4 separate regions of the Homo sapiens genome follow, and regions 1, 3 and 4 are each linked to region 2. Evidence: fine-mapped expression QTL. A gene starts in region 2. Each other region holds a variant in brackets. All regions are shown on one strand. Distances are from middle to middle.

Region 1 (6,223 bases), 600 kb after region 2:
CCTCTTTCTTCCCTGGAAACGTTTGAATGAAAATTAAATGCTATCTGTTGAGGCATTGTTTATTAAATCTTGCAGAATCGGGATCCCACAGGGCAGATATAAGTAAGTCTGGACAAAATCTGGCTCACGTCCGGCTCTCTCTGTAGGGGAGGGGTCCTTACGTTCCTTTGATTGATTGAAGCCCGAGAAAGCCTGAGAGCTCTAATCTCTGGGACAATCTGCCTTGTTTGCAGCGTCAGTAACTGAGGCATTGGGAGACCAGGGGGTTGCACAGTCCCCAGACCTGCAGACAAACCAGCCATCTGATCATCGGAAGCCATTACACATTAAAGCAGAAAAGACTTTCCAAAAGGACACTAAGAGTTAGAATAAAGAGACCTCCAGCAGGCTGTATCTGAGGCTTTAAGCATTAGAGCAAATATTGTGAAGCACATAACTCCAAAAAAGCCTCCCTTGTAAAGAATATTCAATATCTGTAAATCATCACTTAGAAATGCAGCCCAGATTTAATGAAATCTCCCCCCTGGGAAGAAATAGCAACATCAGTCCTTGTTACATATTCAGCAGACAGCATTTACTTATTTATTTGATGTGCAATTAGGGGGGCTTTTATGTACACTTAGATGCACAATTAGGAGCACTATGGGGTCCCCTCTGAGGCATTAGGAGAAGGAACCAGAGTAAACGGCCTGCCCCCCTGTCCCTAAGCAGCCGCGGTGGCTTCCAGTGATTCCTAAGGGTATTTCGGAAGCAGGGGCATTGGCTCTGGAAATTGATGCATTACTTTCACTCCCCCGGATTAGTAAAGATTTTTGAATGAAATGAGATGATGAGACAGGAAGGGAAAATAATATTTACAGGAAATATTCCATTAACTTGGCGTGGACTCCCGGCGGCATTGCCCCGCTAAATTATGCGGTGCGGTGTACGTTCTGCCGAGTGCGCCGCGGATTTATCGTTCTCTTCTGTCGGCGTTTGCCTTGGCTCGCTTTCTCCTTGCTGGGCCTCTGACTTGACCGGCCTAGGTGGCTGCCTCCCTCATTCCAGCATCCACATTCCCCTTGGAAGCCACACCCTGTGCACACCTGGGAGAAACACTTCACTTAATGCACTCAGCATTCTTAGCATTTTGCAGCTGCCCCTTACTCATTCACAGTGTAGGACCAAAGGGCCTTCTCGTATGTTATCATTCTTTCAGATCGCAGCACAGTCTGAGTGGACCTGAACGCTTTCCATGCGTCTAGAGACCAGGCCTACTTGGCCGCGGGGGCGGGCGGGGGCGGAATTTGGGAGTAGGAGGTGGAGGGCATGGGGAGTTCCCAGAATCTGCTACTTAAAAATAACTCTCCAAGGACAAAAGGAATCATATTCTAAGAAAATTGAGATCGTCTTCTCAAAGCATCAATCCTAGACATCCTCCTTCTCAAATCACCAATATCAGACATGGCTGAATCATCTCCATTTGGAAGAATAATCCCAAACTCTAAAGAGTGGTCATCGGCTGGGCACGGTGGCTCACACCTGTAATCCCAGCACTTTGGGAGGCTGAGACGGGCGGATCACTTGAGGTCAGGAGTTCGAGGCCAGCCTGGCCAACGTGATAAAACCCCGTCTCTACTAAAAAATACAAAAATTAGCTGGGCGTGGTGATATACGCCTGTAATCCCAGCCACTCAAGAGGCTGAGACAGGAGAATTGCTTGAACCCAGGAGGCAGAAGTTGCAGGGAGCCGAGATCACGCCACTGCACTCCAGCCTGGGCAACAGCAAGACTCCATCTCAAAAAAAAAAAAAAAAAGAATGGTAATCACCTGAAAGCACTGAGCTAGCACTTAGAATTCCGTACAGGGTGGTGAATATGAAATCCTCTCCAATAAAATGGCCCCCATATGAGTATTCATGGGGGAAAGTCAGACTCGGTGAGTTTCAGTGGCAACTGACTTGAGTTTGCTTCTGCTGATGATACAGAGACAGGACCATGGGTCCAGGAGGCAGGATACCAGCATTTCCATGTGGGCCTGGCTGAGCAAGAGACTCAACTCACCAAGGCCGGTTTCTCTTCTCCCAGTGCTTCAAAGCAACCCTCTATCTTGCCCACCACATGGGGGTTTATGATAATATGGGTTGCTATCAATATTGAATGAACTGCTTTAAAAAAAAATGAATAAAACTAAAGCACTAAACAAACATAAGGCATTTCCAATTACAGACAACACTTTTGAAAGCACCCTCTGTATTCCTAGACTTTCTAGTTCTCTGAAACCCTAGGAGTTGTTGGTGAGGATGTGTGACTCTTCCTGCCTGGAAGTTCATTCACTTGTTCAGTACGTGTTGTCCGAGTGCCTGTCAGGTACCAGGCCCTGCTCTTGGCTCTGCAGAACAAGAGAGACTATGTCCCTGCATGCACAGAGCTTACAGTCTAGCAGGAAAGGCAGTCAAATTTATTTATTAAAGAAAGCTACAGCAATAGTGTTCGAGCACTAAATTCTCCCATCCAAGTACTAACCGGGCACGACCCTGCTTAGCTTCTGAAATCAGACAAGATCAGGCGCATTCAGGGCAGTATGGCCATAGACCTGAGAGTTAAATTCTACGAAGACAATAAATCAGAGTAAGGAAGAGCGGGAGGGGT[G/A]ATGGCTGGTCAGGAGGGGTCTCTCAGAGCTAGGGCCGTTTCAGTGACTCTCTACTCCCGAGTGTTGTACATACGATTCCCTGGGAAGCAGTCTAAGATGAACTCGCATGCAGGAAGTTTACTGGGGTGTGCCCTGGACTAACAACAAATGGTAAAGTAAAGGAAGCAGAACCAGGCAGAGAGAGAAGCTGATGCAGTCCCAACATGGCGCCCTCAACCTAGACGAAACTCGGAAGCTAGGATGACCCCGGAGCCACCGCCATCACTGTTGAGGCTGGGGGCCAAGACTTACCCCCTCCCCCCAGCATTAACCAATCATTAGATCCAAGTGACCCCCTTGGCAAGAGGGTGGTGACCTTGGGCAAGGTGGTTCTCTGTAGCTGAGACGATTCCGGGAGAGGGCGTACGTCCTTCAGTCCTGCAGGGAGAAAGAGGCTGGTCGGTGCTGCATGGTATCTTCTACAGCAGTGGTTCTCAGTGTGGTCCTTGGACCAGCAGCATCCTCATCACATGGAAATGTGTTAGAAATGCAAACTCTGGCCAGGTGTGGTGGCTCACATGTGTAATCCCAGCACTTTGGGAGGCTGAGGCAGGTGGGTCACTTGAGGTTAGGAATATGAGACCAGCCTGGCCAACATAGCGAAGCCCCGTCTCTACTAAAAATACAAAATTAGCTGGGTGTGGTGACATGTGCCTGTAATCCCAGCTACTAGGGAGGCTGAGGCAGGAGAATCACTGAAACCTGGGAGGCAGAGGTTGCAGTGGCCGAGGTCGTGCCATCGCACTCCAGCCTGGGCGACAGAGCGACATCGTGGGACCCTGTCTCAGAAAAAAAAGCAAACTAACGGCCAGGCTAGGTGGCTCACACCTGTCATCCCAGCACTTTGGAAGGCTGAGGCAGGAGGATGGTAGCAGTTGGAGACCAGCCTAGGCAACATAACAAGACCTCATCTCTACACACACAAAATACAAAAATACAAAGGAGTAGTCCCAGCTACTTTGGAGCCTTGAGGAGGTTGAGGCTGCAGTGAGCCAAGATCACACCACTACACTCCAGCCTGGGCAACAGAGCAAGACTCCATCTCAAAAAAGAAAGAAAGAAATGCAAACTAAGGATCCCCGCCTGAGACTTACGAGCTCAGAAACTCTGAGGATGGGACTCCGCAATCTAATTCCACAAGCCTTGAAGGTGACTTGAGCACAGGCAGTGGAGCTTAAGGCCCACTGCTCTGCATACAGGCAGTTAACGAGGACCTTTCTATGAGATCCTACTTCGTTGTTTTGCTGTTGTTATGAAGACATTTTAGTCTGAGTTAAAGTCAAATTCTTTCCTAGAGCAGTTACACTTCTAAACAAAAAGAGAGAGATGTTTTGTAAATTCACGACCTTCATGACCTCCATATCCACTCCAAGACCCAAAACAGAAGTTTCTTTTTTGTTTTGTTTTGTTTTTGTTTTGTTTTTTTGAGACAAGGTCTCACTCTGTCTCCCAGGCTGGAATGCAGTGGTGCCATCATAGCTCACTGCAGCCTTGACCTCCTGGGCTCAAGCAATCCTCCCACCTCAGCCTCCCTAGTAGCTGGAGCCACGGGCGTGTGCAACACACTCGGCTAATTTTTGTATTTTTTGCAGAGACAGGGTTTTGCCATGTTGCCCAGGCCCCCAAAGAAGAATTTTCTTGACCAAAGAATTTTGGCGCTAACTCACTTCCTTGGCACTAACTCACTTCCAGTTTATTTTAGAAAGTCATGATTAGCAATTTATTTAACCTCCCTGTGCCTCTCTTTTTATATCTGTGAAGTGGGGACTAAGAGACACAGAATAGATGTAGTCTAATTTTCTCCATCTTGAATAAGTTTACTTGTCACAGAGTTTCTCATTCCCCAGGATAAAAGTGGCATTGGCCTTGACATAGCAAATATTGTTACAGTCATTTATACTGAAAACAAGAGGTGGGATGGCCTCGAAAAGCAAACAACGTCTCTTTGTGAAGAGGGTTATTTTTTTGTTGGTCACTGGACCTGGGAAGCCAGGGTTCCTCGGTTCCCACAGGGCCCTGGGAAGGCCATCCCGAGACTGGTCTGGGTAAGCCAAGCTCCCAAGGGCACCAGCCTGTATCTTGTGTTCTTGTTGAAGCCCATGCTGGTGTCAGACTGTCACCTTTGAGGAAGGTTGACCTGTCTATGAACAGAAAAAAAAAAAGCATTGCCCTGTCCAGGTGAATAATTCTTAGAGAGCAACTATTGCATGAGAGTAATTAATCTGGAAAGTCACAGGAGGGGAGGAATGTAATTATCCCCTAAAGAGGGGCAGGTCTAAATCTCTCCCAGGGTGACAAGCTTGGAGGCACCTCCTGGAAGGGGTACACTCAAGCTCCAAGAATCTCCCCAAGTTGTCTCTGAAGTCAGTCTCCAGGCCTGACATACCCTTGGGGTGCTGCACGCCTGCCCCTGCCCCCTGCCATTATTTGCCGGATACCTGGCCCAGCAGTCAAGACACCTCACAATTCTACACAATTGTGAGCCACTTCCCTGGGCCTCAGTTTTCTTAACAAGTCGGTTGATGAGATGATCGGGAATCCTGATGTTGAAGGAATCTTAAAACTAGAAACAAAGAGAAATAAAACAAGGTAAATAAAGCAAGCTCATTTTAAAGCCAGAGGGGAGTCATGAATGAAAGAAAGGATGAAAAGCAACAGTTTTCCAGAAGAAAGTGGTAGGAGGGGAAAATGCCAGTTTCTAAGTAGGTAACCCCACGTCTGTCTTTGACTCCCGTGGAGCCAGTGCTCAAGCTAGATCTGATTAAATAACCAAAAGCGGTTTTCCTACTGCAGCTGATATGTCTTTGGGGATATGTGTCTCCCAGGATTCATCTGCTTCCCACACAATGCCTGGTCTCCTCGACCTGCTGTTCTCCCTGCCCCTGAAAAGGCACGTGGACCAGCACTGAGAAAGGCCATATAAATAGCCACGTTGATTGTGTGGACAGTAGGGGTCAAACACAACACTTGGTATTTATAACATGCAAATAAACACCCAGCCAGATGACGTAGCAGCCGCCCTGAGACTGGCTGGCTTCTAAATAACTCTACAGATGCAGATTCCCATTACTCAGGGAGCCCCGTTGACCTTGGATGCAATTTGAAGAAGCAAATCAAAACCAAATGCTATCGTTGGATCCCAAACCACTGCAGAGGAGCATCCAATAGCCTCGCTCGCTCCAAAAGAAGCCATGAACCGGTAGTAACCTATGAACAGATCTGGTTTCTCTAGCTGGAAGACAGAAGACTTTGCTAGGATAATAAGAACATCGACCACCTGGGACTGAATAGACAAATCTCCTTTTTTTTTTTGAGACAGAGTCTTGCTCTTTCACCCAGGCCAGAGTGCAGTGGCACTATCTCAGCTCACTGCAACGTCCGCCTCCCGGGTTCACACCATTCTCCTGCCTCAGACTCCCGAGTAGCTGGGACTACAGGCGCCCGCCACCACGCCCAGCTAATGTTTTGTATTTTTAGTAGAGACAGGGTTTCACCATGTTAGCCAGGATGGTCTCGATTTCCTGACCTCGTGATCCGCCTGCCTCGTCCTCC
Region 2 (6,223 bases):
AGCTGTCCTAGCCTCCCAGGACAGAACAGGGAGGGTTTCCATCCCACACACTGAGGCAGGAGCCTCACCACCCCAGGGCCCAGGTCCTGTCTGACTGACTCACAGAGGCTATGGTTTCTTCCTTATCTTCTGGGCTCAGATGCAATGCCTTTCATGCCTACCTGCGGGAGTTGGTAACATAACCCTGAAGCGCAAGAGGGTTAATGTCTGATGGAATCAATTTGACCAAAAAGAGTCAACTAATGGACAGCACTAGGCTGTTAGCTCCCTCTCCCTTCGTCTCCTTGATGGGTTATGCCAAAAACTGGAAGTTCCATACCTGTCTGGAAGCTCTTCCTCAGGACTGAGTAGCTGTCCTATGCCCACTTTGGTCAACCCCACCTTGTACCTGCTCTCATTCCATCCCTGCCTCACCTTCCCCACACCCCCACTCTTGCCACCCTGAAATTGCACCTCCCAATGATGTCTTCTTGCAGAAGATTTGCTGCAGGCTATTTTCCAGAAAATCTGGGCTGCAATTCAAGCAGACAGGGGATGAGGCTTTCCAGGCAAAGGAGCCATGAGTGAAGTGCTGAGAGAGGAAGGCGGGTGTTCTGGGGGCCAACGTCAAGGGCTGACACAAAATCTCTCAGGCCGGCCTCTGCAACCTAAGGATGTCCCAGACTGTCCCATACCTGAGGCTGCTCCTGCCTGTCTCTCCTCAGGGTTTGTCTTTTCTCTGCCCATATCCACCAGTTGCAATAGCTCCAATATTAACGTTTTTTCTTAGCTTTGGTTATTTTCCAAACACATAGTCCATGTAGAATCAGAAAGCAAATGTCCTGAAAAAGATGTTCTGCTGTTCCTGAAGTTCCAGTGCAAAAGCTACAAAAAAAAGAAATGGTAAGCCCTCCCTACTCTGTGCTATCCAAACTATTTGGGATTTTTTTTTTTGCATTTCTTACATATTATCTTGTATCATTAATGATTCTACCAGATAAAAAGTTCCTTGAGGGCAGAGGTACAAAGTCGGCATTCTGCAAATATCAGTTGAATACATTTAGAAATCCATCTGAAAAGTTAGGATAAGGTCCCTTAAATCACTATTATAGACCTGTTCCTTAAATCATTGTTATTATTTTTCAAATGTGACTATACATATTATTTTGAATAGTATTGCAATCCACCAGCACAGTCAGAATGTCCTGACAGTTCTGTGCAAGGCCACATGCATGCGACTCAAGTCATGCTTTGAATCTCCAGGCACCTGCTGGCAAGGAGGGTTGCTCTGGTGTTCCGGGGATCAGTAACATGAGACTCCATCCACACACTGTGGAATCAAGGTTCAAGCTCATTGGGCCACTATAGGAAAAACAAAATGGGAGAAAATTTTTCACTCACTTATTTTATTTTGTTTTATTCTTTTCTTTTCTTTTTTTTTTTATTTTGAGACAGAGCCTTGCTCTGTTGCCCAGGCTGGAGTGCAGTGGTGCGATCTCACCACAGTGCAACCTCTACCTCCCAGGTTCAAACGATTCTCCTGTCTCAGTATCCCAAGTATCTAGGAACACGGGTGCCCACCGCACCCGGCTAATTTTTGTGTTTTTCATAGAACAGGGTTTTGCCATGTTGACCAGGCTGGTCTTGAACTCTTGACCAGGCTGGTCTTGAACTCTTGACCATAGGTGATCTGCCCACGTCAGCCTCCCAAAGTACTGGGGCTACAGGCGTGAGCCATTGCACCCAGCCTTCACTCATTTATTGAATATATTTTAGTACTTACTCTGTGCTAAGCACTGTGATGAGCAAATACTTTTTATTTTTAAATTTTTTTAGAGACAGAGTCTTGCTCTGTCCCCCAGGCTGGATTGCAGGAGTGCAGTCATAGCTCCCTTCAGCCTTAAACTCCTGGACTGAACTGATCCTCCCACCTCAGCCTCCCAAGTAGCTGAGACTCTAGGCACACACTACCATGCTTGGCTAATTCTTTTATTTCTATTTTTCTTTTTTTTTTTTTTTTTTGTAGAGATGAAGTCTTGCTATGTTGCCTAGGCTCACCCTGAATTTTGGGTCTCAAGCTATCTTCCTGCCTCAACCCCCAGAAGTGCTGGGAATGCAGGTGTGAGCTCCCATACCTGGCCCAAATCAATAGTTTTAAAAGTATAAGTAATAAAGGAACAGTAGCTATGCTCGTGCACAGGAACATGAAAGGTCATTAATTTCTTCCCCCTAGTTTCTTATTTCGAAAACTGTTCTCTATGTTTCTACATTTCACACTGTCTAGTTAATTTTCAGGATTTTTTGGAGCCATTACAGGAGGTGAGTAAAGGAAGAAATCAGAAAAGGACATACTAGAAGTATCAGGAATAACCATTTTTAGTTGAATACATGGACTCCAGAAGAAGATACAAGCTTGACAGTGCTCATGAAAAGATATCTAATTTTCTTAAGTCTTTGACTCTGGAAAGCCCTTTGAGCTACCCATTATATAACAAGATTCGGCAGGTTTTTTCTTTCTCCCTTCATTGACATCTTCCGGGGAAAATGCTGCATGATATGATTTTCAAGGCTAACTTGCCTTTTCCTGTTAAGCAGTGTCCCTTGTGACAAATTCACCTCCTATGCCTCCCTGAACTAGGGAGGCTCCTTCAAAATTCCTAACAGGCAGCCCTGTGGAGAGATGGGAGGGAAGGGATGGGAGGGAGGAAGGGCGGGAGGAAGGGAGGGAGAGAGAGGTAGAGTGTGTCTGTATGCGGCGTACATGTGGTACAGCCAGGGAGATCAGAACGCTCACAGAACAGGCAGTGCAATTCCATGTTCCTCTTAAGTATGTTAGCCCTACCGGGAGCTGAGCTGGCCAGTCTACTTGGAGAGGAAAAGTAGATCTGGGGAAGGTGGAAGGGTCAGTTCCTAAGTGACTTCCTCCTCGGGGATGGTAAGGGCATTTGCTGATCTCCAGTGACTGCCTGGTGCCTCATGGTCAGACTCGGCTGTCTCACTCCCAGATATCTGATTTTGCAAAAAGGGACACACCTATCTGCAGCAAAGAAGACACTGACCAGATTGCGAGCGGTATGTTGTGACATTCAGCATGTTTATGCAGCAGAATTGCTGAGAGATGCAGAGAGAGGGGGTGGCTCGGGCTGCTTGATTTATCTGCAATAGGGAATGTTTTATTTTAATTGTCAGTTAAAGGAAGAATTGCTGCCAGGGCGAAGGTAGCAGTTAAACATTCCGTGTTCTAAGCTTTCACGTTTGTGTTTGATGCGGTCTCCCTGTCTGTGCCGCTTTGCGAAGCTAGGGAGGGCTCACTTTTAAATAACCTGCAGCTTCCTATTTTCCTTCTTCTTTTTTTTTTTTTCCTCCCTAAGCACAGTTCCCACCCTGTCTTCCCTGACCTCCTCCCCACCCTGTGTGAAAGGTGGCCTATCTTCCCCTTGAGCCTTTTGCTCCCTAAGTCTGGATTTTGGCTGCTTTTTCTGCAGGTGCTTTTGGATGCTCTGTAGCCACCCGGGGCCCAGGAGGACTGACTCGGCAGCAGGATTCGTGCATGGGAATCGGAGACCATGGCAGTGCAGCTGGTGCCCGACTCAGCTCTCGGCCTGCTGATGGTGAGTGTTCAGACAGGAGGTGGGGCCCGGGCAGCGTCCACTCCAGCCTCCCCTGCACCGTGGGCTGCTGCTGCCGCTGCAGTGGCTGCAGACATGTTCAACATTGCTCCGCTTTATCCCGCAGGCTCTTTGGAAATGCTTTCTTGGGTCAGAGTATCAGCATGACAAAGCACTTGCAGGGAAAAGAAGCTGTAGATTTGCCATTTCAGAAACTTGTTGCTGAATGCTATTTTGAGAGCTGTGCTTGCAAACAGGTGCTAAGAGCCCCTCGAAATAGATTGCTAGGATGCCTCCTCCAGCTCCCAGCATCCTTTCCCCCTTGTCTTTTGCATCTAAATTGAGCTGATTGTGTTTGTTTTTGGATATCTTCTCAGGGCAACTGTGGAATCTGTTGCCCATGGGGTGACAGAATGGGGTCTTCTTTCTAGGCGCCCATATATCTGCTCATACTTTCCTGTAGAGGTGGTGGAGGAGGTTCACTGTGGCTTCAGTGATGCTTGGGCTACTGAGTTGGGAGCAGCTTGTTTCCTATCTACCATTGATGGCCAACCTTGGCAGGACTTGTCCAGGCATTTATCTGTGTGTGAGCAGCTGACTCACCTTATGCCCCTCTGGAATTTTCACCATATTAAGAAAGCCCTAGCTCTTACCATATTAAAGCACACAAGGACATGGGCACTGTCTTGTTCCAACCCAATTGGCTTTTGGCTTGACACTAGGTTCAGCAGTGGCTTTTGCCATGGTTTTGCATCTCTCTCCTTTCCCAGGGTTCCCACACACCACGGTAATACTGGCTGTTGTCGGAAGTAGCCTGCATCAGGCTTGGCATGGAAATGTTTCCAGCATTTACACAGGAGATTTTATGAACCAAGCATAAGTGCTTCTGTGTATATTGATTTGTGTCTTCGGAATGAGGAGGGGAAATGCAACTTTGCAAGGCCTGATGAGTTTATGGAGGTGACTTGGAAGAGCCGTCAGTGGGAAGCCTGCCCCCTGGGTGGCAAGCCAGGTCATGTTAAAAGGAACAGATATCTTGGTTCTTCGTTGCTCAAAATTCCACTGGGTCCACAGATTTAGTTGAATTGCCTGAAATCTATCTCATGGGCCTCTGCTGACTTCTCATTTCACTGGGGGAGTAGGACTAGAAGAAATGAAATTGTCAGTTTCCAGAGAAATTACCCATTACCTGACTTCTTTCCCTTACTAATTCTATCGTCTGATGATACTTTATCCTCCATCGTCTACCTGTGGTCAAATAAACTGGATAGGAATTTTCATTCCATCACTGAGTATTCGTGATGATGGCTGGCACTAAAATGCATTATCTATGGGGTCTAGGAGACTTCTGGGAACCTGGGAGCCTGGGTTATATGCTCTGAAATACAGGCACACATATGCACACACACACACACACACACACACACACACACATGCATATGTATATTATATTATCTAGTACACTAACAGAAATAAATCCTGCATCGTGTTAATATAGAGGAGAAAAGTTTTCTTGAAAAATATCTTTAGGGAGAGTTAGACCCGCTTGTCTCAGCCTCCTACTTGGACCTTTCTTCTATACTTAGAAGAAAGATGTGTATCTGCTTTATTCCAAGCCCCTAAGCATGAATCCTTGGTATCCAAATTAAATGAATAGCATCCATTTCTGCTGTTATACACCCCCCCCCCCCACCCACACACACACACAGGCTCTTCTGGTCCTGGGTCTTCCACATATTATGGCTGCTGTCCTGGTAGTGTCTACATCTCAGACTTCACCTTCCATTTGTCAGTGGCCTCTGCCCTTAGATCTGTCCCTGGCACTCTCCTCCTGCCCGGAAAAAAGGATCGTGTTCTCCTCTCTTGGAAACCAGGGGAAAGAGCTCTTGACACCCTGATGGACCGTTTGATTAAAGAACCCTGGAGTACCATGTGTAATCAAAGTCTGTATACATTTTCTGGTTCATGTTTAGTTCAGGGAAATTTTCCCCTATGGACTTTGGTGCTATTTTTTTTCCTTTTTAAGGGTAAACCCCAAAGTAATTGCTTCCCTGACATCTTGCATGATGCATCTTAAAATTTATAAGCAAGCCGAGGAGGAAAGAAAGGAGGAAAAGAGGCCATTTAGCGGAGTTGCTTTGGCTGTGAGTTCAGGAAGGAAGCTGTAAACATTATTATTTATGAGCTCATTCATCAGCCAATCAGTTGTCAGTATTTATCGCGTGTCTGCTCACTGAGGAAAGTAGCCTGGCATAACAGCAAGAGCCAGAGCTCATAAACACACAGTCTGTGGGAGGCTGATACCAGGTTGGTGGATTGCAGTTCTGATTTTGTGCTATGGAGTCATCGGGGCTAAGGGGTAGGTGGGGAGATGATCTGGCCACACCCCTTGCTTTTGGATAAGGAGACACCCAGAGGTTACATTCAGCTTAGATGCTAAATGCTTCAGGGCAGAGCATGTTTAATTGGTTACAGAAGCGGCCACAGAGTCTGGAGGGTTGGACAGCCCTGTGCTCCATTCTAGCCTTGCCACTCATTGAGTGATCCTGGGAATGTCCCTTCCTTTCTCTGCCTTGGTGATGCCATTTGCTAACTGAGAGTGCTCTCTGATGTCTAGGTTCCCTTCCATTCTGTTA
Region 3 (6,223 bases), 680 kb after region 2:
CCAGCCGATGTCACTGGAGCCCGGGCTGGCTGGGTCTCCTTCCATCTCTAGCTCTGCTTCCTCCTCCTGTTAACCTAGTTCTCAGGAGGAAATGACATCCTTGTGGTTTCAAAGCTGCTCAGGCACGTGGCCACCTTTGAACCAGGGATTTTGATCGGGGGACTCTCATTGGCCCGGCCCCGTTGGGTTCCTTGTCCCCTGGCCCCCACGGGAGTGAGGATGGCGCCATGGTGGAGAGCACCACCAGGACCACGTGGAGTTAGGGAGAGACTGTCCCCCTAAGAAAAACATAGGACCCCTGCAAGGCCCAACCACCTCTCCCATTAGAAGTTTTTCAGTCAGGCACAATGTCAAAAGTCAGCTTAGGGTGGAGACAAAGTTTGCAGGACAGGTGTCCCAGAATCATCCACATACCACCTACATATAGTAATACCCATGGCCAGTGTCATAATCAAGGGCCTTTTCTTACTTTGCTTCTGAAGCTGGTTTATTTCTGGTGCTCCAAACACAGGACTCTCATTAAAATCCACCAGTATATGCACAGATGCCTTGTGATTTTCCAGCTTTCATGGATTTTAAGGCCAGATGAGAAACATTTACAACATCCAGTTGTTCCTAGAGAGGTTAGCAAATGAAATAGAAAGCTGGGGATGACTGATGATTCTCAATCGTGAAGCTGTGTTTGGTACCGAAATGCTCCTAAAACTCACCCGCTCTGAACTACTTTGGGTTAGGGTCCCTTCCTGTCACCCATCCCTCACCACTCCCCATGGGGAGATCAGTTGCAGGAGAGGAATTCAAAGGGCTCATTCAGGATCATTGAAGAGAGGCTGTTTTTCCGAATCATGATCCCTAGTAATGACTATTGGCTTCCACATATCTATGATTGCTTCTTAAGATTTAAGAATTACTTCTACCCAACCTAAATGGTGATACCTCCCTAAAATACTTAAAAAAAAAAAAAAAAGCCTTTTATTTTCTTCTATAGACTTTCCTATTTTAAATGAACACACTTTTATAATCACAAAACAATGCATGTTATTTAGAATAAAGCAAAGTCATCATTGATTTTTTTTAAACTTTTAAAACACAATTCAAAATACCACCGCAGTTTCACTATAGGGAAAACTCACATTTTGAATGTTCTTCCAGGACAGAATAAAAATTTCCTAGTGACATCTGTTAGCCCTGGGGTCTCACGGAGGACAACCCGGGCAGCTGTCGTGTGGGAAAAGTCCCCTGAGGAAAGCCCAGAGGTTCTGGCTTTGGCTGCATCTGAGAATCACCTGGTGGGGAGCTTTGACAGTTCTCAGCGCTCAAACACACCCCAAATCAATTGGGCCCAGGCATGAGTATTTCTGGGAGTTCCCAGGTGCTCCCCGGATGCAGCCACGCTGAAGAACCACCGCACTGAGTAAGTTACCTTCCATTTTCCTCCTTCACAAATGCTCTAGGTTTCAGGCGGCCCCTTTGTGTGGATTCTGGGGGCCTTCTGTACACACAGCACTGTTGAGGGTCTCAGGCCTCACTGCTCCGAACAGGAAAGACTCGTGATTAGCACAGGGCCCTGTCAAGGTGAACATATCCTTCTCAGTGCAGGCCTGGCTGAACCCATCCTCCTCCACTAACTAACTGTCTCATCTCCTTTCTTGGGCCTCCCACAGGAGCTACAATGATAGCTGTTTCCTGGATTCCTCCCTCTATCCAGAACTAGCTGATGTCCAGTGGTACGGGCAGGAAAAAGCCAAGCCCGGGACCCTCGTGTGAGCCAGCCCGGCCTAATCTGACCGCCTCAACGCCATTCTGAGATCACCTCACTGCCTCTCATTTGCCTTACCCAGACGCACCGTCACCCTGCACCAGCTTTGGCCCTCAGCACTTTTTTTCTCCTGTCTCCGCATTCCCTCCCCCTTGAAAACCTGACTGAGGAGACATTCTGGAAGGTTCCGGTCCCACTGTGTGTCCCCTGGCGCTCTTGCCCATAGAGAGCCAGACACCAATCCTCAATGGCACCTTGGTGGCTTCCCTCTGCCATGACAGCCCCTAGGCCAGGAACCATCAGGGGGGCCAGCCGGCATCCAATTCCTGCGGATAAGTAGCGTTGGGAGAGAACGGGAAAGGGGACTTGAGTTACAGGGTGACCCAGAAAGACGATTCAGCTGTGTCCAGCCTGCCACCCATACGTAGGCCAACCAAGCACTTCATGAAGAGGAGGCCTCGTGGCATATTCAGTTTACACCTGAAATATTCCTTGATGGGACAGCTTGTGGGGATGGCTATGGGGGAAGGGGAGGTTGAGAAAGGAAGTTCTCGACACCAGAAATGCATCGGAGGACCACAATCAGTTCTATGCTGCCAAAGATTAAAAATAAATAAAAACATAAAAAATTAAGAGGGGCCAAGAGGAAGACATTCTTTCTGCAAGGAAATTTCTTTTAAATTCTGAACTGCTACTACACACAAGTGAAAGTCAACCCTATGTAAACTGGTGTCCTCTCTCTAGCCCTCTCCCTTACTGGCCCACTTCTCTCTCCGTAGAGAGCCTGAAAAACTGCCCCAATGCCACGGTAAAGGCGAGGAAGTCTTGGCTGGCGTTGCTGACTCACAGTCGCCATCCATCTGGACACAAAGAGAGACCTGTGGGAGTCGTAGAGGGTACTGTTAGCCCCGGTCCATGCAGGGGGTTCAGCCGAGCCCAAGACTCAAAGCTGCTTTCCTTTCAGGATTTGTAGTAACGTAAGGTGATAATGGCCAAAAGTGGTTCTCTCTCATTAAACCAACCAGTAAAAGCGTATCCTATTTTTTTGCACAAGGTGTTTCATTTTCGTTTTTATGGGAAACCAAGGGAAAAGCACATTGCGATCCATTCAGTGTTTAACTGTCGTGGCTCATTTTCTGTTCGTTAGCACTTGTGTGACAAAAGAGCTCAGATCCGACTTCTCCTATGTGTCACTTATTCCAAGAACCCAACTATGCCCTTAGGTAGAAAGATTTGACTCGTGTGTCTACTAGCCAACAGGCAGAGCAGGGTTGAAAAAAATATCAGCTCCCAAAGGGCCCATGTGTCTACATCATCAGTTACTGTCATGCACCACATTTGTGTGCAGATACCAAAAGAGGAGGAAAGAAGAAAAAAATTAATGTGTGGGAGCTGCACGTTTACATGTTTTGAGCTATGCTTCAAACACAACTGGAAAGCCATCAATCTTCAAAGGCCTCAAAAATACTTTTATAGTAACAAGTGCACGACTTTAGTTGGGTTATTCAAGATGGCACAAAAAGGTTTCCGCAGAGGTGGTATGCTGTGCTTTTGGCGCAAGTGGTGGGGGGATGGGGTGGGGGTGGAATTTTTTTCTCACTCTAATGACTTCCTATTGGAAAGGCATTGACAGCCAGGGACAGGAGCCAGGGTGGGGGTAGTTTTGTGGGAAAGCAGAACTGAAGTTAGCTTAAGCATAAAAACAAAGAAAAATCTTCGCTTTTCATGTATGTGGAATCCAAGAATAACCATAGGCTCTACCAGACCAG[A/G]AGGGTAAGGATGGACACTAAAATGAAACAAATACCAAGGTATTCCTTCTGCTGCAGCCTGGAGACCACCGAGAGTCGAGCTGGGGCACACACACACCTGGCCGGGACCCGGCAGGGACAAGGCGGGCCGTGGCCTCCTCCACCAAGTCTCTCTAGACAATTCAGGGCCTGCTTTCCCCAGCTCCATGCATGGCTGGACTGGTGATTCCAGGGTGCAGAAGGGATTCATATTCCCAGAACGCTTTAAGTGTACACCTGCAGGATAAAGAGATACCGGTTACATTATTAAATGATTCTAGGGATTCACTGGGGGATATTTTTGTTGCTTTTACTTTCATGGTTAGAGCTACAAAGAACAGTGATTTTTTTTTTTTCTCCCTTCCCCATTCAGAAACATTATACATTGGGCCATTTTTCTTTCTCCCAAAGAAGATTCATGGATAGTCAGACTGAACTGTGTGCAACAGGAAAAGTCAAAAGGGAAAAGGTAGCTGATGAGGTTACATGGTTACATGTTCTACATCATGCATAGTAGCTTGAAATCTAGTCTGGAGAAAACTGGATCAAGATTCTAGCCCACTGGAGTTGCAAGGAATGAGAGGCAAAAATTCTAAAGATTTGGGTTATATTTTCAACTTGGGGGACAGAGAGAAATGGAGAGCAGGAATTACAGTTCCAACAAACATCATGATAGTCTGGTAGTCAAGACAGAGATTAAGTAAAACAGGTTTTACTGTTTAGCTGAGTTCAGTTAATACAAAATGTACATAAAACGTTAGTCCTTTGAGACTGACATGATTAATGATCAGTGTGGTGGGAAATGATGTAGTTATTGTACACAAGCACTTGCAAACTCTTTATCCCTATTTCTTTAAAACAAAATAAGGTGAAATACGAAGTCCTTGGTCTGATATAAAGCCCCTATTGGATTCTTCGGATGCGTAAAAGAAATTGCCTGTTTCAGCCAGAAGACTGGTGAAAACACATACATCAGACTATGTTGTGAGCCAGGTTGATTTTTTATTTTATTATATGCAGGTGAGTGTTGAAACTGTTAAAATTCCAATTTGTTTTCATTCAGTATTAGTTTAGTTCTAAATATAGCAAACCCCATCCAGGTGCTATCAGATGACCAGTTACTGCTTAGTTAACTAGGTGTAAAGTTTTACATATACATTAATGTCAATAGTTTATTACAAGTTGTGTAAAATGGACTCTAGTTTAATAATGGGGGAAAAAAGATTAGGTTGCTCCTGAAACTGACTGTAGAGCATGTAAAATGATTTTACTGGATTCTGTTCAACTGTAATCAATGAAAAAGATGTACGTTGTAGACAAAGTTGCAGAATTAAAAAAAGAAATCTGCTTTTAATTTATTCTTTTTGTATTAAGAATTTGTATAGTACCTTTACATTTTGCAAAACAGTGTTGTCAACACTTATTAAAGCATTTTCAAAATGAAAAGATCCCAGCTGCCTCCTGGAGATTTTGTTCCTTTGTCTGTCAGCGATAAATGCTTGCGTGTGCACTGGGAATCTGTAATTCAGGTGCTTGTGTCCTCAGTGGGCTCCTTTATTAAAGTCAATCTATAGATGGCATTTTTATGAGCTTGCTAGATGATACAGAGAAGCTTGGTTTGTTCAGCTGAGGTGAATTCCCTCTTATTCTAGTTTCCTTCTGTTAACTGTGCAAGATAATATTGTCTAAATTATGTATTCCTGCTACTACAAAAAAGGACTTGAGATTAGAGGTCAATCTTTATGAGGATACTATCTCAGCCTTTGCATCACTATTCACTGCAAACGGCTCCCTGTGTGTAATATGTGCCAGCATGTGTACTGTCCCTGCAAGACAGTCCACGGCAGGAGCAATGAAGGAAGCTAGGCTTTGAGGGATCGTCTTTAGTCTCTCCATGTTGTCCCTCATTCCATGTAGGATGCAGAGGGTCACTCACACAGGCTGCTCAGGCTCTCTGTGACTACCGTTAATCCTCTGTGCTCACACTGCAGCTCAAACCCTGCCACTGACTCTCTAAATCACATCACGAGAGCCAAGCGCCTATGGGGACTGCAAGTACAAAGAGTCCCTGACTTACAGATGAAATGGTGACTGACTGACTTGAGTAGTGACTGCTGCAATCGAATCCCTGGCCCCCTAACTTAATAGGCATCTCCTCCTAGCAAAACTGGAAGTCTGGCCTCCAATAGCATCCCTGCATGAAAAACTCCTGGATGGGAAGCCTTACAGAAGCCTTGGCCACTAGAGCTAGTTGATGCTGCCGAAAAGGAAAACAATCCACTGAGAATCACATCTGGAAGTGAGCCCATCAAGAGAGTGTTCTCTACTTCCTACACCCTAAAAACTGCCCGTGGGAGAGCCTGAAGCCTCCTCTCCTTGGGGAAGCAACCAGGCCATCTCAAAATCATCTACACTTGAAAAAAGACAAAGGGCCCTCACGTAAGTCTTCTACATGTAAATATGTCACAGCTCAGGAAATTAGCGTATCATCTTCTCATTAAGCTCTACCACATGAAAGCAACTGGTAGATAGGAAGATCCTCTTCCCATTTCTTTCCCACTGCTTCCTACTTTTCACCTCTTCATCTATCAATCTGTTTATCTGCCCTTTCATTGTGCCAAAAAAGGTGATTCCGAACATTTAATTATTAGAGAACACAAAGTGAACACCCCACTCC
Region 4 (6,223 bases), 320 kb after region 2:
GCTTAGAGGCCTAACTCCTTGAGTGGCGTGTGGGAGAGGGTGGGAATAGTTGCCATCTATTGCCTGGAGCCCTCAAACGACACTGAGAAAGAGCCCGCTTTTAATACCCTGCAAGATGTTACAAGGAAGTATGGCTCAAGATGGAGGTTAGGACAGATATTTACAATGTCAGCCTTGGATTGTTTCTGTTTCCTTCATGTAAGTGGTATTTCGCCTTTTTTGCAAAGGAAAGAATGATAAGGAACAAAATCAGAAAGGCCCCTTAGGTCACCTTCCCATCTCTTTCTCCAGCTCACCATCCTTTGCCCCTTCTGCTGGGGCTCATGGTGGCCTCAGCCTGCCTTCTGCCCTGGGAGTGTCACGACAGCATCTATTATACAGTGTGACCTCAGTCACGTCCCCAGCTGAAACCTGTCTGTCCTGTGGCCTGTCCTTTCAGTATTCTGCCAAATGAACAAAATAAAGCAATGAAAATGAGTTTATTTAGTGCCAGCAAGTGGCAGTTCTGAGGTCAGATGCACATGTGAGTGGACTTCCAGGGGACAGACAGGCCAGCCTCACTAGTGGTAATTTCAGGCACTGGGCAAAAGATTGGACAAATAGTTGAGGCCGGCTCATCAGGATCACCCTGGGCTGCAATGACCAGGCTGCATGTCCGTGCCAGCACCCAGGATTCCATCAGGAGATCATTTACCCTTCACGTGGCTTTTCAGCATGCATCCGCGCGGGCACTGGCTTCATCTATGAGTCTGCTCCTGTGACCGTGCATACACGTTGGCTCGGCAGACTCTTCCCCCTCCTGCTGCTGCCTCCATTATCACCAACACTGCAAAATGTTCTCTCTCCAATGGAACATTCCCCCCATTCCCGCCACCCCTTTCACACCCTGCTGTTCGTGACCAAGAACACCCATTTGCTTTGATACATCTTGCTGTGGCATGTCAAGACCATTGACTTTCCTGAAACCTGGCTCAATGGATTCCTATGCATTTTCCTTCCAGGGTTTTAATGCAAACATTTTCATTGAGACTGGAAGGAAATGTTCAAAGCAAACAAACAAAAGGCTTTGCCAGCCTTAAGTGTGCTGCTCCCTGAGGCATCAAAAGCAGCAGCTTCGGAGAGTCTAGAACTGAAGAGTGTCTTCTACATCTCCCTCTCCTGCACACAGTTTGTTGACTGCCCCCCATCCCTGAGGCATCTTTCCCCCCTCAACTCCCACCCCACATCCAGCAGCCATTAGGCCATTCCTGGATGCTGAGGGTACCGTGTCATCCACTATCCTGACAACAACCTGCTCTTTCTATGTAATATTGTTCCATAGGTTTTCCTCTTGCTGTTCTTTTTTTTTTTTTTTCCTTTGAGACAGAGTCTCATGCTGTCTGCCTCCCAGGCTGGAGTGCAGTGGTGCAATCTCAGCTCGCTACAACCTCCACCTCCCAGGTTCAAGCCATCCTCCTGCCTCAGCCTCCCAAGTAGCTGGGATGACAGGTGCCCACCACCATGCCCAGCTAATGTTTGTGTTCTTAGTAGAGACGGGGTTTCACTATGTTGGCCAGGCTGGTCTTGAACTCCTGACCTCAGGTGATCCACCTACCTCTGAGTCCCAAAGTGCTGGGATTACAGGCATGAGCCACCGTGTCCCGCCTTCTCTTGCTGTTCTTTTCAGTTCACCCTTAATTCACCATTTCCCATTCCTTTGGTCCAATGTCTCGGTCCCTCAGGGCTGGCCCAGAGCCACATATACTCAGATCTATGGCTCTCCCTTTCCCTGCCCTGCCTATATGGCTATTTCCACAGTTCCCTTTCAACTGGCTGGAAGATGCTGCCAGGAGATTGGAAGGCAGATGGAAAGAAGGGCCAGGCATTTCTCCTCACCTCCCCTTGACCATGGATGAAGGCTTCAGCAGCGGCTGAGTCTCCCACTGGATGGGTCTCCAAGGTTCTAGACTCCACTAGGTGACCTGGCCCCTGGCTCTAATAACTCGGCTCCTCCCTTGACCCCTTAGGCCAGCCTCCCTGCCTCCCCCTTTGTGGTTCTTAGCCCCTCCGTCCCCTGTGCCCAACTCCTGGTGACATCAAAGCAGCAGCTCCAGAAACTCTAAAATTGCTCAATCTAACAATTTCCTATATTGACATTCTCTTCTTTTCAAAGACAGAGTTTTCCATTTTCCTGTTGGGTTCAATGGATGTATCTTCCTTTGGGATTTCCAAACTGCTGTAATCTGATAAAGTCCTGTAGGACAGGCAAGCTGGGCCCTGAAATCACACCAGTTGACTTTGGTTTTCATCCTAGCTCTGACATTTCTAGCTGTGCTGCCTTGGCCAACTTACTAAGCCCCTCTGAGCACCAGTTTCTTCACCACTGAAACAGGGATAATGAAACGCATTTCCTCCATGGAAGTAGCCTTTGATAACCTCACAGCACATGGCCTGCCAATGGGTAGGTGCTCAGTGAACATTCATTCCCCTTGCTTCTCCTAAAGTGGTCATAACTGTGAGAGTATGAATGCATATCCCTTCCGGGGAAACATATTTGTATTCTAACAATGGAAAGAAATACTTGGCCAGGCATGGTGGCTCATGCCTGTAATCCTAGCACTTTGGGGGGCCGAAGCGAGGAGATTGCTTGAGCCCAGGAGTTCAAGACCACCCTGAGCAATATAGTGAGACCCTGTCTCTATTTAAAAAAAAAAAAAAAAAAAAAAAAGACCTAAACTCGACAATTAATTTTGAATATGTAAGTCTCCGACACCCATGGCAAGACAATCAGAAAGATATTTTTGGACCAGCAACCTTTGAGAGCCTTGAAATCACTCCAAGGAGGGGGTCACCTACTCCGCGGGGACTGGGGAGGGCTCCATTATCTGGGAGGAGGCTTTTGTGCTAATATGAAAAGTGATCCTTCTCCCCGCCTCCCAAGGGAAGGATGTGGAATGTGTGAGACTCAGATGTGTGGGAGTCTGGCCCAGGGTTATTTTTGTTACCATTAACATTCTCTTCTATATGTATTTTAACCTTAATCAAATGCATGTGTTTTTGTTTTATTTGCACTTAGTTCATCAAAATGTCCCTTATGATCTGAACTATGCCATAAGCCTAAGCTCCACAGTGAAACACTCATTAATACCCCTGGGAAACAGGAAGT[T/C]GCATTTAGTCAAATGTAAATAAATTCAGCTCCCCGGGGCTTTGCCCTGGCCTGGGTCAGAGAAGAGGACAGTGGCTTCTCAGTCCATCTCATCATTGTCCCCCCCACCGACCCCAAAACTGAGCTGGAAGAATGACATGCCGTGACTCTCAACAGATAAAGTGTTCTGAAAGTGTGCCTATCCTTTGTTCAAAACCGTTACAACGTCAAGTGCAGTTTTACAAAGAAATGAGTTTCTCTTGCTTTGGCTCAATCATCGGGTATCGTTCCAGATTTTTTCCCACCCCCCGCCAATGCTCTGAAACCAGGCAGTGCAGGCAAGAAGCAAGAAAGAGAGAAAAAAGAGATGTAAACCTAAACCACCTCACCAAAGACGCCGTGTGAGCCGTGGTTAAGAGGTTTCCGTCTCCCCGTCTCTCTCACCCTCTCACTGACTCTCCTACTGCACACATGGAACCAATTACGAACAAAGCCCAATTGTTGTATATTTGGAATTTCCCACATCAACCTGATGCTTTCTTTAACTGACTCGTGATGTGTGTCTGCGCTGGAGGGCTGAACCCAGGTTTCCAGCCCGTGCGCTGCTGCCGCCGCCGTGGCACCCTTCGCCTCTTTCTTCTGATTCATTTTCTCATAGTACAAAACTCTGCTTCTTTCCTTCGCACCCCACCCCCATTTCCTATTAGGTGTGTTTGAATAAACAGAACCTTCATTTCCGTCATTTTCAATGAAGTAAGCACACTGGTCTGCAGACAGTGTCTCAAAGCTGGTGCCCAGAGCGTATGAGTGGTATCAAGGCTAATACCAAAAACCACGGGATGATTACAAAGGAAATGGCCATCCCTTTCATAAAACTCAGAACAGACAGAAGCAGTGTATGTAGAAATGCTTTAAAAAGAAAAAGAAAAAAAAAACCCAAACATACCCCATATCCTGGAAGCACCTTACTTGATTTTCTTTGTAGTAATTTTTTCTGCTATGGAAATAAGCCGATTTCAGGAGGAGTAGAGATGGGGAAGGTAGGGGAAAATATTACAGAAAAGTTAACGTTTGAGACCATTTATGCCATCCATCAAAGAAGGCTGTGTGATCTGAAATTACACAATATGATCAGAAAATAATTGACAGACGTGATGGATGAATCTGCTTCGACACAGCCGTGTAAAACGAAACATAATTTCTTCTTGTTTACTGGCACACGTAAAAATAAATGTTCTATAACACAAACATTTAAATGAGAAGGTGCCAAACACAAGCCTGTTCGATTTGATTTGATTCATCTGAACCATGTGATTGCAACAGTTTCTTCTTCTTTCCCTCATACTTTCTCTCTGTGGACTGTATTCACATATACAGTGAGTAATACCCGTGCGTTTATTTTTATGCGTTAGAAAGCAGGAAGGGTAAACAGATACGCATGTCTGATGCTCAGTTTTATAGATAGAATTTATGATTTCAAAGAGGTCCCTGATGTGTTCTGTCTGTGGTCTTCAGATATTGTTCCTCCGTTCAGAAGGGAGTGAAATCAGAGTGTAGGATTCTGCATTAATCTCCACTCCAGATGGTGATATTCCAAATAGTCTTTTTAAGGTGAGCATGTGACCTACTGTACGGCCGAGGGGCTTGGGAGTCACGTGATGGAATGAATAATACGTCTGATAGAGCTTTGATTAGACAACTGACCTGATTACCATCTGCAGCCACGAGAAGCAAAGTTGACATTTCTGGATCACTCTCCCCAGACGCGTCACTTGCCCACAAGCGGGACACGGCAGTCTCGCTGAGCCAGCTGTGCAGAGGGACAGATGGAAGAAAGCTAGAGATGCTGCTTCGTGGGCGCTGAAGTTGCAGAACTTGGGCTGGTTTTCTTTCTTCCCATCCCCCCTCCTCCTGACAAACCACATCTTGACTCAGATGGTCGAAAGAAAAACTCTTTCAGTTATTTGATATTTGGGAACCCTCCAGGAGACCATAACTTATTTTTGAGGGAGGCTCCTTCTCTCCCTTTGCTGGGAACACACACACACACACACACACACACACACACACACACACACACACACAGCTGTACACCATGGTGGTTCAGGCTGCAGTGGCTCCGAATAGATCCCAAAGACTTTTACTGAAAATTCCTTATGGATCTCTGAGAAGGCGCAGCGTTGAAAGGGTAAGCTACGTGGCGGGTTGTTTGCTTCTCAGTTGCTCCAAAGACAGGAAGATGTTTGTTTTCATTGTATACCGCGTTACTTCTGTTACTCACGTTTCCTGAACAGTTGGAGTTCCTGGGACTGTAGAATACTATCTCATCTGTAATTTTAGTTTTTTAACAGATAATGATGAGAAACCTGAAACAGTAATTTTTGTAACTTGTGGATCTCAGATGGGGGAGGGGTGCTCTTAGAGATGAAATATGAGGGAAAAGATTGGGATGGAAACTTCCCCCTGGAATGGGTTTGAAAGATTTGAGTGCTTGCTGAGAAATGCATGGGGGCTGTGAAAATGATTTCTTCTGTGTTTACTGAAACATACTCATTAGAGCAGCAGGGCTGTGAATTTCTTCTACTGGGTGACAGTGTCTAAAAGGGAGGTGATGGTGATGTTAAGGAGCTTCAAAGCTTTGGTAGTTTAAATTATGCAGGCAGTTGATTACATGCTTTTTTCCCCCCAAATACATTGCTATCATTTGGGGTTTATTTGTTTTTAATGCTATGGATTTTGGCTTAAAATTACTCTGTTAATTTCCTGAAAGCATGTTTACTTTATGGAAGCCCCTAGTAGAGAAAATCCTATAAAGTAATAATAAGGATTTGTCCTTCTCTGGAGTAACAGATGCATTTTTGGGGCTGACTCTAGTTAATGCAAAGCTGGTTGTCATTAGGGTGACAGGCTCAACATGCAGGGAGAATCCCTACACCCACAAAGTATATGGTGGTTCTGTTGGTCTCAGAAACCCCAAAAGCCCATGTTTGAATTGTGGCAAGTCCTTCCATGAGTTTTCGTCACCTACATAGACGTCTTCAGTTAAGGTGTAGTCCAAGACCTAATAAAGCAAATAGCATCACATGAAGCTCTCTTGTT

Direction of the effects. Alleles are on the strand shown, and positions count from the first base shown. SD is a standard deviation of normalised expression in the study named. Not every link is listed here.
For the expression in stomach of the gene that starts at base 2,724 in region 2, A is the low allele of the variant in region 3 and G is the other (small effect, 0.26 SD a copy in GTEx).

The links. PIP is the estimated chance that this variant, and not a neighbour inherited with it, causes the effect. A credible set is the group of variants that fine-mapping cannot tell apart.
Region 1: its variant is the best candidate, but not a certain one, in a credible set for the expression of FRMD4A in whole blood (TOPMed, PIP 0.52).
Region 3: its variant is the best candidate, but not a certain one, in a credible set for the expression of FRMD4A in stomach (GTEx, PIP 0.89).
Region 4: its variant is the best candidate, but not a certain one, in a credible set for the expression of FRMD4A in whole blood (TOPMed, PIP 0.73).

The regions. Positions count from the first base shown.
Region 1 is chr10:13,724,148-13,730,370 of GRCh38, reverse strand. The region is part of intron 12 of FRMD4A (FERM domain containing 4A); the gene reads left to right. It overlaps LOC105376426 (a long non-coding RNA gene), which reads right to left. Exons shown (of 4, transcript XR_001747371.2): 3 at 5,110-5,234; 4 at 44-3,049. It also overlaps the pseudogene RNA5SP301. Among named protein-coding and RNA genes, the nearest start is that of PRPF18, 140 kb to the right of the region's middle. RefSeq lists an enhancer at 1,329-2,183. The variant G/A (reference allele first, on the strand shown) is at 2,632.
Region 2 is chr10:14,327,425-14,333,647 of GRCh38, reverse strand. FRMD4A (FERM domain containing 4A) reads left to right here and starts at 2,724. Exons shown (of 25, transcript NM_018027.5): 1 at 2,724-3,051; 2 at 3,465-3,590. The coding sequence starts at 3,546.
Region 3 is chr10:13,642,477-13,648,699 of GRCh38, reverse strand. FRMD4A (FERM domain containing 4A) reads left to right here. Exons shown (of 25, transcript NM_018027.5): 25 at 1,665-4,994. It also overlaps a transcript of PRPF18 not described here. Among named protein-coding and RNA genes, the nearest start is that of PRPF18, 59 kb to the right of the region's middle. The variant A/G (reference allele first, on the strand shown) is at 3,529.
Region 4 is chr10:14,007,149-14,013,371 of GRCh38, reverse strand. All of the region lies in intron 2 of FRMD4A (FERM domain containing 4A), which reads left to right. FRMD4A-AS2 (FRMD4A antisense RNA 2) reads right to left here. Exons shown (of 3, transcript NR_199003.1): 3 at 5,846-6,185. Among named protein-coding and RNA genes, the nearest start is that of FRMD4A-AS2, 19 kb to the right of the region's middle. The variant T/C (reference allele first, on the strand shown) is at 3,146.